Homo sapiens: one gene and its partners. The protein of the gene in region 3 interacts with the protein of the main gene of each other region in a biochemical or structural test. Each region holds a gene or a part of one and is shown on either strand. Other genes may lie near its edges. The genes, in order: KMT5A, DGCR8 and RNF168.

Region 1 (3,649 bases), on a different chromosome or scaffold from region 3:
GTGTGAGCCCGGGAGGCGGAGCTTGCAGTGAGCCAAGATCGCGCCACTGCACTCCAGCCTTGGCAACAGAGCAAGACTCCATCTCAAAAAAAAAAAAAAAAAAAAAAGAAAGATATATATTGGTGGAATAGATTTAAAAAAAACAACAACAAAACTTGGTCAGGTACAGTGGCTCATGCCTGTAATCCCAGCAGTTTGGGAGGCCAAGGCAGGTGGATCACCTGAGGTCAGGAGTTCGAGACCAGCCTGGCCAACATGACGAAACCCTGTCTCTACTAAAAATACAAAAATCAGCCGGGCATAGTGGTGCACACTTGTAATCCAAGCTACTTGGGAGTCTCAGGCCAGGAGGCGGAGGTTAGTAAGCCATAATCATGCCACTGTACTCCAGCCTGGGCAACAGAGTGAGACCTTGTCTCAAAACAAAAAACAAAAAACAAAAAAAAAACTTCAACCAACAGTAATATACCAATGTTGGTTGTTACTTAGCTGTGACAAATTCACCAGAGTAACTTAAGTGAGAGAAGATGGGTAAGGAGTCTGGGGAACTCTCTGTATTATCTTTGCAACTTTTCTATAAAATTAAAATTATTGGCCAGGCGCGGTGGCTCACATCTGTAATCCTAGCACTTTGGGAGGCCAAGGTGGGCGGATCACAAGGTCAGGAGTTTGAGGCCAGCCTGACCAACATGGTGAAACTCTGTCTCTACTAAAAACACAAAAATTAGCTGGGCGTGGTGGCAAGCGCCTATAATCCCAGCTACTTGGGAGGTTGAGGCAGGAGAATTGCTTGAACCTGGGAGGTGGAGGTTGCAGTGAGCCGAGATCGCACACCTGCACTCCAGCGCGGGCTACAGAGTGAGACTCTGTCTCAAAAAAAAAAAAATTGCAAAATAAAAACATTTTAAAAACTTTTTGGCTGGGCACGGTGGCTCACGCCTGTAATCCCAGCACTTTGGGAGGCCGAGGCGGGCGGATCACAAGGTCAGGAGATCGAGACCATCCTGGCTAACACGGTGAAACCCCGTCTCTACTAAAAACACCAAAAATTAGCCGGGCGTGGTGGCAGGCGCCTGTAGTCCCAGCTACTTGGGAGGCCTTTTTAATTATTTTTTAAGATGGGGTCTCACGGCCGGGCTCAGTGGCTCACGCCTGTAATCCCAGCACTTTGGGAGGCCGAGGCAAGTGGATCATGAGGTCAGGCATTTTGAGACCAGCCTGGCCAACGCAGTGAAACCCTGTCTCTACTAAAAATACAAAATCAGCTGGGCATGGTGGTGGGCGCCTGTAATCCCAGGTACTCAGGAGACTGAGGCAGGAGAATCACTTGAACCCGGGAGGTGGAGGCTGCAGTGAGCCAAGATCGCGCCATTGCACTCCAGCCTAGGTGACAGTGTGAGACTCTGTCTCGAAAAAAACAAAACAACAAAAAACCCACAAAAGATGGGGTCTCACAATGTTGCCCAGGTTGGTACTGAACTTCTGTTCTCAAGTAATCCTCCCACCTCAGCCTCCCAAGTAGCTGGTGTCTTTTTTGTTGTTAATTACTCCCCATTGGAAAACAAGCCCTACGGGCTGGTCTAGTTTACTGTGGAATCTCCTGGTCTAGAACAGTGCACACAGCAGGCCCTCAAAGCAACACCACCACCATCACACACATAACCACCTTGCTGTGTGACCCATTCATTGCAAGTGTGCAGAGAGTGCTGAGAAGTACGGGGGCCCATGTAAACGGGAGTGATCATGGAAAGACCGGGGTAGTGGAATGGGGGTTTTTCTGCTGGGACCAAACACGGCAGGTAGGAGATGCGCAGAGGGAAGCTGGGACCAGGCCAGATGCCCCGGCACAAAGCCAGGGAGGCTGAGTCTCCCAAAGGCCTGGAATTTGGGGCCTGCAAACAACCAGCCCTGGGTTTTCTAAAGGGACTTCTGGCAGGAACCCACAAATGGGCCTAGAAGGAGATGGAGTGGGAGGGATACAAGGTTGGAACTAGGGCAGTTGAGAAGCGCCTGTGACCAGGAAGGAGGGGACCTTCCCAAGCGGAATCAGCAGGCTGCTTGCACATCTGGCCCTGGGGCCGAGCTGGGCATGAGGAAGCCCAGCCATTGCCAAGAGGCATGGTCCCTGCCCCGCTGCTGGCTGCCACCCCACCCACAGCCAGGCTGGCCGGCCAAGGGGCCCCTGCAGTGAAGCACTTGGTGGATAGGGCATCTCTCCAAGGCCCACCTTGTGTCCAAATCCAGCAGCCCTGATCCCACCCTGTTGCCCAGGACCCACGCCCTGGCGCTAGGCCCGCCCTGGCTGCTGTCTTCAGCCTCAGTGGAGGTATATAAGAGGCTCTGAATTGCAGTTTCACCCCAGACCATCTGGCCAACAACAGGCTGTATTATGCCCCACCCTCCTGGATCCACAGCCTGGGCCCAGCATGGCAGTCAAGTCAGGACTGACCCCACCCTTCAGATGAGCCCCAGCTGTCCCGTTCTTGGGCTTTATCTGTGCAGTCAGAAAATATTCCACCCTGACCAGCTCTAGCCACGTCATCCCGGCCAGCTATGGCCTCCCTGCCCTGGCCAGCAACAGCTTGCATGGCTGCACTCAGCAGAGCCAACACAAACAGTGGGGGGCAAAGCACGGCTCCCGGTCCAGGAACAGGGCGAGCTTTCTTGTGTTTGCAGACTGTGCTTTAGGGAAGCAAGTGTGTTCTTCCCTTCTGCTCATCTGCTGCAAGATTTAGCAGACCTGCATCCTGTCCCATCGCAGCCTTCACTCTGCCCAGCACAAACTCTTGCTTCTTATTAACAAGGCCAACTCGGCTCCCCCCACCCTAAAGTCCACAGCAGCCCTTGGTGGACGCTCAGCAGAGGCCCTGTGTGTGGGCACACCGCAGCTCCAACCCTGGCTGGGAGGTGTCTGGGATTCTGTGGTCTGGCACCACCTCACCATCTGCAGTGCTGTCTTTTTTTTTTTTTGAGACGGAGTCTTGCTCAGCCACCCAAGATGGAGTGCGGTGGCGCGATCTCGGCTCACTGCAACTACCGTCTCCTGGGTTCAAGTGATTCTCCCATCTCAGCCTCCCAAGTAGCTGGGATTACAGGCACCTGCCATCATGCCTGGCTAATTTTTGTATTTTAGTAGAGACAAGGTTTCACCATGTTGGCCAGGCTGGTCTCGAACTCCTGACCTCAGATGATCCGCTCACCTGGGCCTCCCAAAGTGCTAGGATTACAGGTGTGAGCCACTGCACCTGGCCCAGTGCTGTCTTTAAGAGTGACCTAGCAGGCCGAGCACGGTGGCTCACGTCTGTAATCCCAGCACTTTGGGAGGCTGAGGTGGGCGGATCACCCGAGGTCGAGAGTTCGAGACCAGCCTGACCAACATGGACAAATCCAATCTCCACTAAAAAAAAAAAATACAAAATTAGCTGGGCGTGGTGGCGAATGCCTGTAGTCCCAGCTACTCAGGAGGCTGAGACAGGAGAATCACTTGAACCCAAGAGATGGAGGTTGCGGTGAGTCGAGATCACGCCATTGCACTCCAGCCTGGGCAACAAGAGCAAAACTCCATCTCAAAAAAAAAAAAAAAAAAAAGTGACCTAGCACAGCCTCCCACTGCTGACAAATGTTTTAAACAGCTCATTCTTGGCTGAAA
Region 2 (3,649 bases), on a different chromosome or scaffold from region 3:
GAGATGGCCAAAGTGCAAGGCAGGGCCAGGCAGGAGATGCTGAAGGTGCGCCCGGCTCGGAGGTGTGCAAAGGCTCAGGAGCCAGGGCCAGCTCTCCCTGCTTGAAGGAGAGCGAGTGTGTCAGGGTAGCTCTCCCTGGTACCAGTGCCGGTCCATCTCTAACAGAAGAGCATATGTGTACCATCTGTCTTGTTTCTGCTGTTGTGGCCAACATCCTGCAGTGTAAGCCAGTGCCCACTCCTGAGGGGTGGAGGGTAACATGGGGAGGTGAGTGTAATCATTTTCCTCAAATGATTACAGAAACTCTCTGGGTTCTTGCCCTCCTGGTCATTGGAAGGGGAAGTAGTTGTGGAGGGGTTAGGCCTGCAGGTGGGGCAGCCCTAGGACTGTGTGGTGGGTGGGCCCTCTGCCCAAGCCAGCTGCCAAGAGCAGGGCCTGCCTTTAGGTCCCTGAGACCGAGGCCTCGGCACTGTCCCCGAAGAGGCCTTTACTCTGGACATGATAAGGGAGGGTGAGGGGGCTCACACGGGCCACCAGGGCATGTTAAGGAACTTGAGAGAGATTTTTGGGAAGCAAGTTGAAATGTAGGTAGCACTTGCTTCTGCCCTTGCTGTGCATGGTCCTTGGCTGTGACGGAGGGAGAGAAGGCAAGCCCCACTCTGGCCCGGGGGTGGGAAACTTCCCTGAGCAGGAGGGGGAAAGGTCCCAGCCAGGCACAGCCACAGCTTGGGGGAGCTCTGGCATCCCGAGGAACCACAGCACCCTTGGGGCTGGCCTAAGACGGGAAGGGGCTGAGGCCAGCCTGATGCTGCTCTGCATTCATGGAGTGTGCAGAGAGCTCAGTGCCTGAGGCTGATGGGCTGGGCTGCAGCGTGCTGTTCTTACTGGCTATGGCCACACTCTGGTTTCACTCCTTGATGAGGACTCTGGGCACCACGAGCACCTCACCTCCCTACTCTGCCCATGGCAGGAGGCCATATAAGTGGCGTGGTGTGGGCAGAAAGGCCTGGCAGCTATGGACTGCCCCTCGCTCTCTGCTGCTGTCAGTGGGCCTGGCATCACTGAGGCGGGCCAGTCAGCATGCAGTTATGTTGCCACAGCTCCTGGCTGTTTCGTGTCTGCCAGACCCTGGGCGCGCCTGCCTTCAGGGTCCCAGGCACACAGCTGCTGGGCAGCGGGCAGGCCGTAGAGCTACAGCCTGCAGTCCTGAGCGTGAGGTGCTATACTTCCCAGGAGACATCGGACAAGAGTGTGATTGAGCTGCAGCAGTATGCCAAGAAGAACAAGCCCAACCTGCACATCCTCAGCAAGCTCCAAGAGGAGATGAAGAGGCTAGCTGAGGAAAGGGTGAGTGCCACCCTAGCGGGAGGGCTGCCGGGCCACGGCCATTCCTGTGGCACCTGTGGAGGGACAGCAGACCCCAGGACCCGTGCCTGAGCTGACACCTTGGAAATGCTTGGATCCTCCTTCCAAAATCAGATACAGGCTTTTCTTTGAGCTTCGACATGTGTGATAGTTTTATAAATCACTTCAGTTTTGGTTCTGTTGTTAGAGAGCTGGCAGGCCAGCCTGTTGGTGGACCATGAAGGTCACAGTCTTGGTGGGCCACCTGAGTCCCATGTCCTCCCTGGGTGTTTGGAGGTAGGTCAGTGCACCTGCCAGGGTTGAATCTGTAGGGCTTGGTCCTGATGAAGCCTCCTAAAGCCACCTTGGGAACCCCACTCAAAGAGGGGCCTGTCAGGCTGGCAGTGGTGTCTTCTGTCTTCAGGCATCGTCTGCCTGGCCACGGCGTGACCTGCCCACCTGGGCCTTCTGGGTGGGAGCTTTCTTAAGTGTGGCAGTCCCCTGGCCTGGGTGAGAGCCCCAGGAGGTATCTGCTGCCGCCCAGGCCAGCAGGTCCCTTGCTGCTCCCTGGGGTGGGGCTTGGCCTCCTGGAGCCAGTGGGACTGCCTGGTTTGCCCCTGGTCGGAAGAGGGGCTGTGGGGCTCAAGGGCAGCAGGTGCAGGACATAGTGCTCCTGGCTGGGCCTGGGGCAAGCAAAAGCTGGGCAAGGGAGGAACACCCAATGGGGAGGCCTGGCCTGTCCCTGTAACTGCACCCAAAATTCTTCACTTCTTGGTACATGTCCTGATTGCCAGGGAGGCTGCACATGTTGTACTCTGATGGCAATGCAGGGGGCCTCTGCAATCTCAGGCTGGCCTGCCCCAGGCCTTCCCTGCTCCTCCTAGCCTGGCATCACAAGCACTGGTGCCGTTGGGGCTCCAGGGCCTCCTGGCATGATCTGCTGGGCTCTCCCTCCACCTTGTGTCTTCCCGAGCCTCTGCCAAGCCCACCTCACTGGTACCCCTGACCTTTGTTGTTCTTTCAGGAGGAGACTCGAAAGAAGCCCAAGATGTCCATTGTGGCGTCCGCCCAGCCTGGCGGTGAGCCCCTGTGCACCGTGGACGTGTGAGGGAGGTGGCACGGGCCAGGGCGCGGGGGCCGCCAGCCGCACTTCTGAGGAGACCAGCAGTCATGCATCGTGCACCACAGTGTCAGGCCTCCAACCCACGCTCCTTCCCTGTGGCCAACCTGTGGGCCCGGCCTTAGGGTGGAGGCTTTAGTGTACAGGGACAGCCATGGCCACACAGCACACATGTGGAGCAGCGGCTCTCCCTGGAAAGCTCCAGGCCTGAATGGATGGACTCAGCGACTGCACCAGTGGCAGCTGGTGACTGTGGACAGTGGTGGACCCTGCTTCTGTGCACCTGCTGCAGGCTCTTTTTATGAAGGCTTTCATGAATTTTAGTATGTAATACGCACTGACGACACATGATGCTTGGATGACAGATGAGAGGGGATGGCTGAGTCCTGTGGCTGGCCCGTGATGCCAGGTGGCCCATGTGCCCAGGGCGCCTGCAGGGCTGCTACAGGGACCTGGTCAGGAGGTGCACATGGTGCCCTGCCCTCACCCACCCTCTGTGTTTCCCCTTCTTTGAAAAGGTAGAAGAGAAAGGAATATTTTAAACCTTTTTGGCTTAAACAGAATTTTAGCATCAGAACTAGCTTTCTGGGATTGGAGGCAAACCATCAAGGTGGTCCCTCTCCAGTCTGGACACGATGCCAGCAAGGATGACGTCCTGCCACCTCCTGGAGTTACCCTGGCCTCCTAGGGTCCCTTTTTCTGATGAAGTCTTAATTCCCTAAAAGCGCCTCTTTGGACACTGAGGCCCTCTCTGCCTTTCCTGGCCTCCGGCAACAGTTTTTTACAAAGATTTTTTGCAGTCGAGTCCATATGTCCACCCATTGATTTTTAAAGCTTTTGTGATATTTTAGCATTTTGAAAGACTTTCACAGTGAGAGTAGAAGGTAGATTTGGAATCATGCATTTTAGCAAGTGGACTTGTTGAAACAGGAAGCAAGGGCCTTCAGTGTAGCCCATTCTTGATCCAGAGCTGTTGCCTGTGACAGCGGTTTCTCTGGATGTCAAAGGCAGCTGCCTGGTGCCCAGCTTGCTTCTCGACTGGTGGCCCCTATGGGTGGGTGTGCGATGGAAATGTGTTCCTGCCGGAGTCTGAGGCACCAGGGTGTGCTCAAAGGCTGGCCCTGGTGGTGGACTGGCACCTGTGCAGAGTGCCGTGTGCTTGTGGTGCGCCATCTGAAGCAAGAG
Region 3 (3,649 bases):
TTTTAGTAGAGACGGGGGTTTTACCATGTTGGCCAGGCTGGTCTTGAACTCCTGACCTCAGGTGATCCACCTGCCTTCCAAAGTGCCAGGATTACAGGTGTGAGCCACCGTGCCCAGCCTTCCATTTGCTATTTCTTTCTTTTTTTAAATTTATTTTTTTTTTTTTTTGAGACAGAGTCTCACTTTGTCACTCAGGCTGCAGTGCAGTGGTGCAATCTCAGCTCACTGCAGTGTCCACCTCCCAGGCTCAAGCAATGCTACTGCCTGAGCCTCCCATGTAGCTGAGACTACAGGCGCCCACCACCACACCCGGCTAATTTTTGTATTTTTTGTAGACGGTTTTGCCCTATTGGCCAGGCTGGTCTCACACTCTCAGGCTCAAGCGATTTGCCTGCCTTGAACTCTCAAGTACTGAGATTACAGGTGTGAGCCCCCGCACCTGGCCTGTTTGCTATTTCTTAAACAACTCTAATTTTATAAGAAATTTGAATATCTCAGTTTTATAGTCTTAAAGTGACTATACAATTTTTGCCATCTGTTGGAAACAACTCTCGACACTCTTCAGTTCTGGTTAACTCTAAAATTTCTGCTGAAACCCACTTCGGTTAAACATTCCTACTCTACTCGATATTTTGCTTCTTCGCAGCAAGTGGTCTTCCTAGGCGGCCAGGACTCATTTAAGGAAATATGTCCCCATGCTTTTTATTTTATTTTGAAGGAAAAATTCAAGTTAGTTAAAGACCTGAATGTATAATACTGGATGAAAAATAAAAATAAATAATAAGCCTTAACTTGAACAGTTGAGCTGTTCATAAAACTGCCCTCCCATCACTGAACTAGACTGCAGCTCCATGTAAATGGCAGTTTCCTTCTCCCAATTAAATGTGCATTCCTGGGCTGGGCACAGGGTACAAAATAAAGAGATAGTTAAAAAATAAAAAGCCCAAAGTTGCTCTGGAAAATAAGCATATGATTTGTGAAGCAGTATGTACATCAGTGTGGCTGGATCATCACCAAGTAGTGTGGCTATAAATGGCAATCAGGGGCAAAGTGCTCACACCTGTGATCCCAGCACTTTGCGAGGATGAGGCAGGAGTATCACTTGAGCTCAGGAGTTCAAGACCAGCCTCGGTAACATAGTGAGACCCTATCTCTACAAAAAATAAAAAAATTAGCCTGGCGTAGTGGTGTGTGCCTGTGGTCCCAGCTACTCAGGAGGTTGAGGTGGGAGGATTGCTTGAGCCCGGGCGGTGGAGGGTACAGTGAGCCAAGATCGCTCCCTGGCATTCCAGCCTGGGCGACTAAGTGAGACCCTGTCTCGAAAATAAAATAACATAAACTAAATTTGCACTTTCTGCCTCAATATTTATTTTGAAAATTTTCAAATCTACAGAAATTGCAAAAATAGTATGATAAACCCCCGTTTAACCTGCATTTAGATTCATGAAGTTTTTAAACTGCCACATTGCCTTTCGTGTGTGTGTGTGTGTATTTTCTGAACCATTTGAAAGTTGCATGATCATAACCCTTCACCAAATCCTTACGTGTCCACCTCATAAGAGATGCTGTCCTTATCTCTTGATTTGATATACAATGATCAAGTTCAAGAAAATTAACATTGATATATTACCCATCATATCAATGATAAAAATTTCACCAACTATCCCCATGTCTTTAATAACAACCTTTGTCCTAATCCATGTTCTAATCCAGGGTCATGCACTGCATTTAGCTGTCATTCTCTTTTAATCTCCCTTTCAACTAGAATGATTCCTAAGGCTTTGCCTTCATGACACTGACATTTTTGAGGTACTAACAACTACGTTTTGTAGAATTTCAATTTGGGTTTTTGTTTTCTCACAGTTAGATTCAGGTTATGCCTTATACTCGTCCTATCAGGAGGACCGCAATGTTTGTTTGTTCCATGGATAACGTTAACTGTGATCACTTCATTACTGTGGTAACAGGCTTCTCGACTGTATCCTTCACCCTTTGTAATTAATAAGCAATCTGTAAGATGATATTTTCAGACTATATGAGTCCTCCGTTCTCCGGCAAATTTTCAAGCAGGGATTTTGGCATCCGTTTGTAATTCTTGCCTGCATCAATTTTTACAGTGACAGTCGCAAACAGAAAGGAAATTTAGACATTCTAAGGCTGATTCTTCCCTACTATAGGATTCTTTTTTGAGAAATCCAAATGTAAAACACACCTGTCTCCGTCACACTAATTCACTTTCAAATACTTCATTTTTTAAAGCTATCTCATATGTGCTTTCTTACAACCTTCCTTCCATAAATTAAAAATACATAAAGTAAATGAGTAGATTCACTTTATGTATTATGTGTTAACAAAGTTAACACAGAAACACCAATTATATTTTTATAAATTATCAATGAACAATACTGAAAATTTTTTAAAATTTACTTAAAACAGTCTCAAAAGCCATAATATAATTAGGGATAAATATTAGTTTCTTAGGGCCACCATAGAAAAGTACCACAAATTGCGTGACTTGAAAATACAGCAATTTATTTTCTCACAGTTCTGGCTAAAAGTCCAAAATAAATGTGTCAGCAGGGCCATGACACTTTTCAAACTTGTAGGGGATCCTTCCTTGCCTCTTCCTTGCTTCTGACAGTATGCTGATAACCTTAGACGTTCCTTGGGTTGTAAATACATCACTCCAGTCCTCCAGCCTCACGTGGTACTCTGTGTCTTTACATCATCTTCCTTCTGTGCGTGTCTGTCTCTGTGTCCAAATTTCTCCTTTTTATAAGGAAACCAGTCATAATGGATTAGGGCCCATTCTAATGACCTTATTTTAACTTCATTACTGAAAAAAATTGAAGGTGACCTACACAAACAGAGAAATATACTATTTTCATGGATACAAGGACTCTGTTGCTGTTTGGATGTCAATTCTCCCCAAATTGTTCTATTAAGTTCAATGCAACCCCAATCAAACTCCTAACAGGCTGTTAGTAGAAACTGGTAAGTTGATTGAAAAATTTAAATAGGCTGGGTGTGGCGGTTCAGGCCTGTAATTCCAGCACTTCAGGAGGCTGAGACGGGAGGACTGCTTGAGGTGAGCTGTTCAAGACCAGCCTGGGCAGCATAGCAAAACCCCGTCTCTACATACAAAGAATAAATATACGGAGGACGGGCACGATGGCTCACGCCTGTAATCCCAGCACTTTGGAAGGTCGAGGCAGGAGTATCATCTGAGGTCAAGAGTTCGAGACCAGCCTGGCCAATGTGGTGAAACTCCCGTCTCTATTAAAAATACAAAAATTAGCCAGGCATGGTGGTACATGCCTGTAATCGCAGCTACTCAGGAGGCTGAGGAAGGAGAACTGCTTGAACCTGGGAGGCAGAGGATGTAGTGAGCTGAGATCACGCCACTGCACTCCAGCCTAGGCAACAGAGCAAGACTCTGTCTCAAAAAGAAAAAAAAAGATTTACTCTAAAGTCACAGTAATCAAGACAGTGTGACACTAATATTAGAATCAACGGATCAATGAAATAGAATAGACCCACATTATTTTTTTTAAAAAGTCTTTTCAACAAAAGGTACAGAAATAACTGATACCCATATGGGAAAAAGTTAACCTCAACCCCCTAACTTATACAATATTCAAAATTAATT

Evidence for each region.
Region 1: the proteins of RNF168 (region 3) and KMT5A form a complex in vitro, tested with the Homo sapiens proteins (one study listed by BioGRID).
Region 2: the proteins of RNF168 (region 3) and DGCR8 form a complex in vitro, tested with the Homo sapiens proteins (one study listed by BioGRID).

The regions. Positions count from the first base shown.
Region 1 is NC_000012.12:123,397,603-123,401,251, reverse strand, and holds part of KMT5A (N-lysine methyltransferase KMT5A), read right to left. Parts: intron 1-3,649. UniProt on the Homo sapiens protein: Protein-lysine N-methyltransferase that monomethylates both histones and non-histone proteins. Specifically monomethylates 'Lys-20' of histone H4 (H4K20me1).
Region 2 is NC_000022.11:20,107,657-20,111,305, forward strand, and holds part of DGCR8 (microprocessor complex subunit DGCR8), read left to right. Parts: intron 1-1,233; coding exon 1,234-1,347; intron 1,348-2,368; coding exon 2,369-2,452; 3' UTR 2,453-3,649.
Region 3 is NC_000003.12:196,493,703-196,497,351, forward strand, and holds part of RNF168 (E3 ubiquitin-protein ligase RNF168), read right to left. Parts: intron 2,770-3,649; exon of another isoform or gene 2,512-2,769; intron 1-2,511. UniProt on the Homo sapiens protein: E3 ubiquitin-protein ligase required for accumulation of repair proteins to sites of DNA damage. Acts with UBE2N/UBC13 to amplify the RNF8-dependent histone ubiquitination.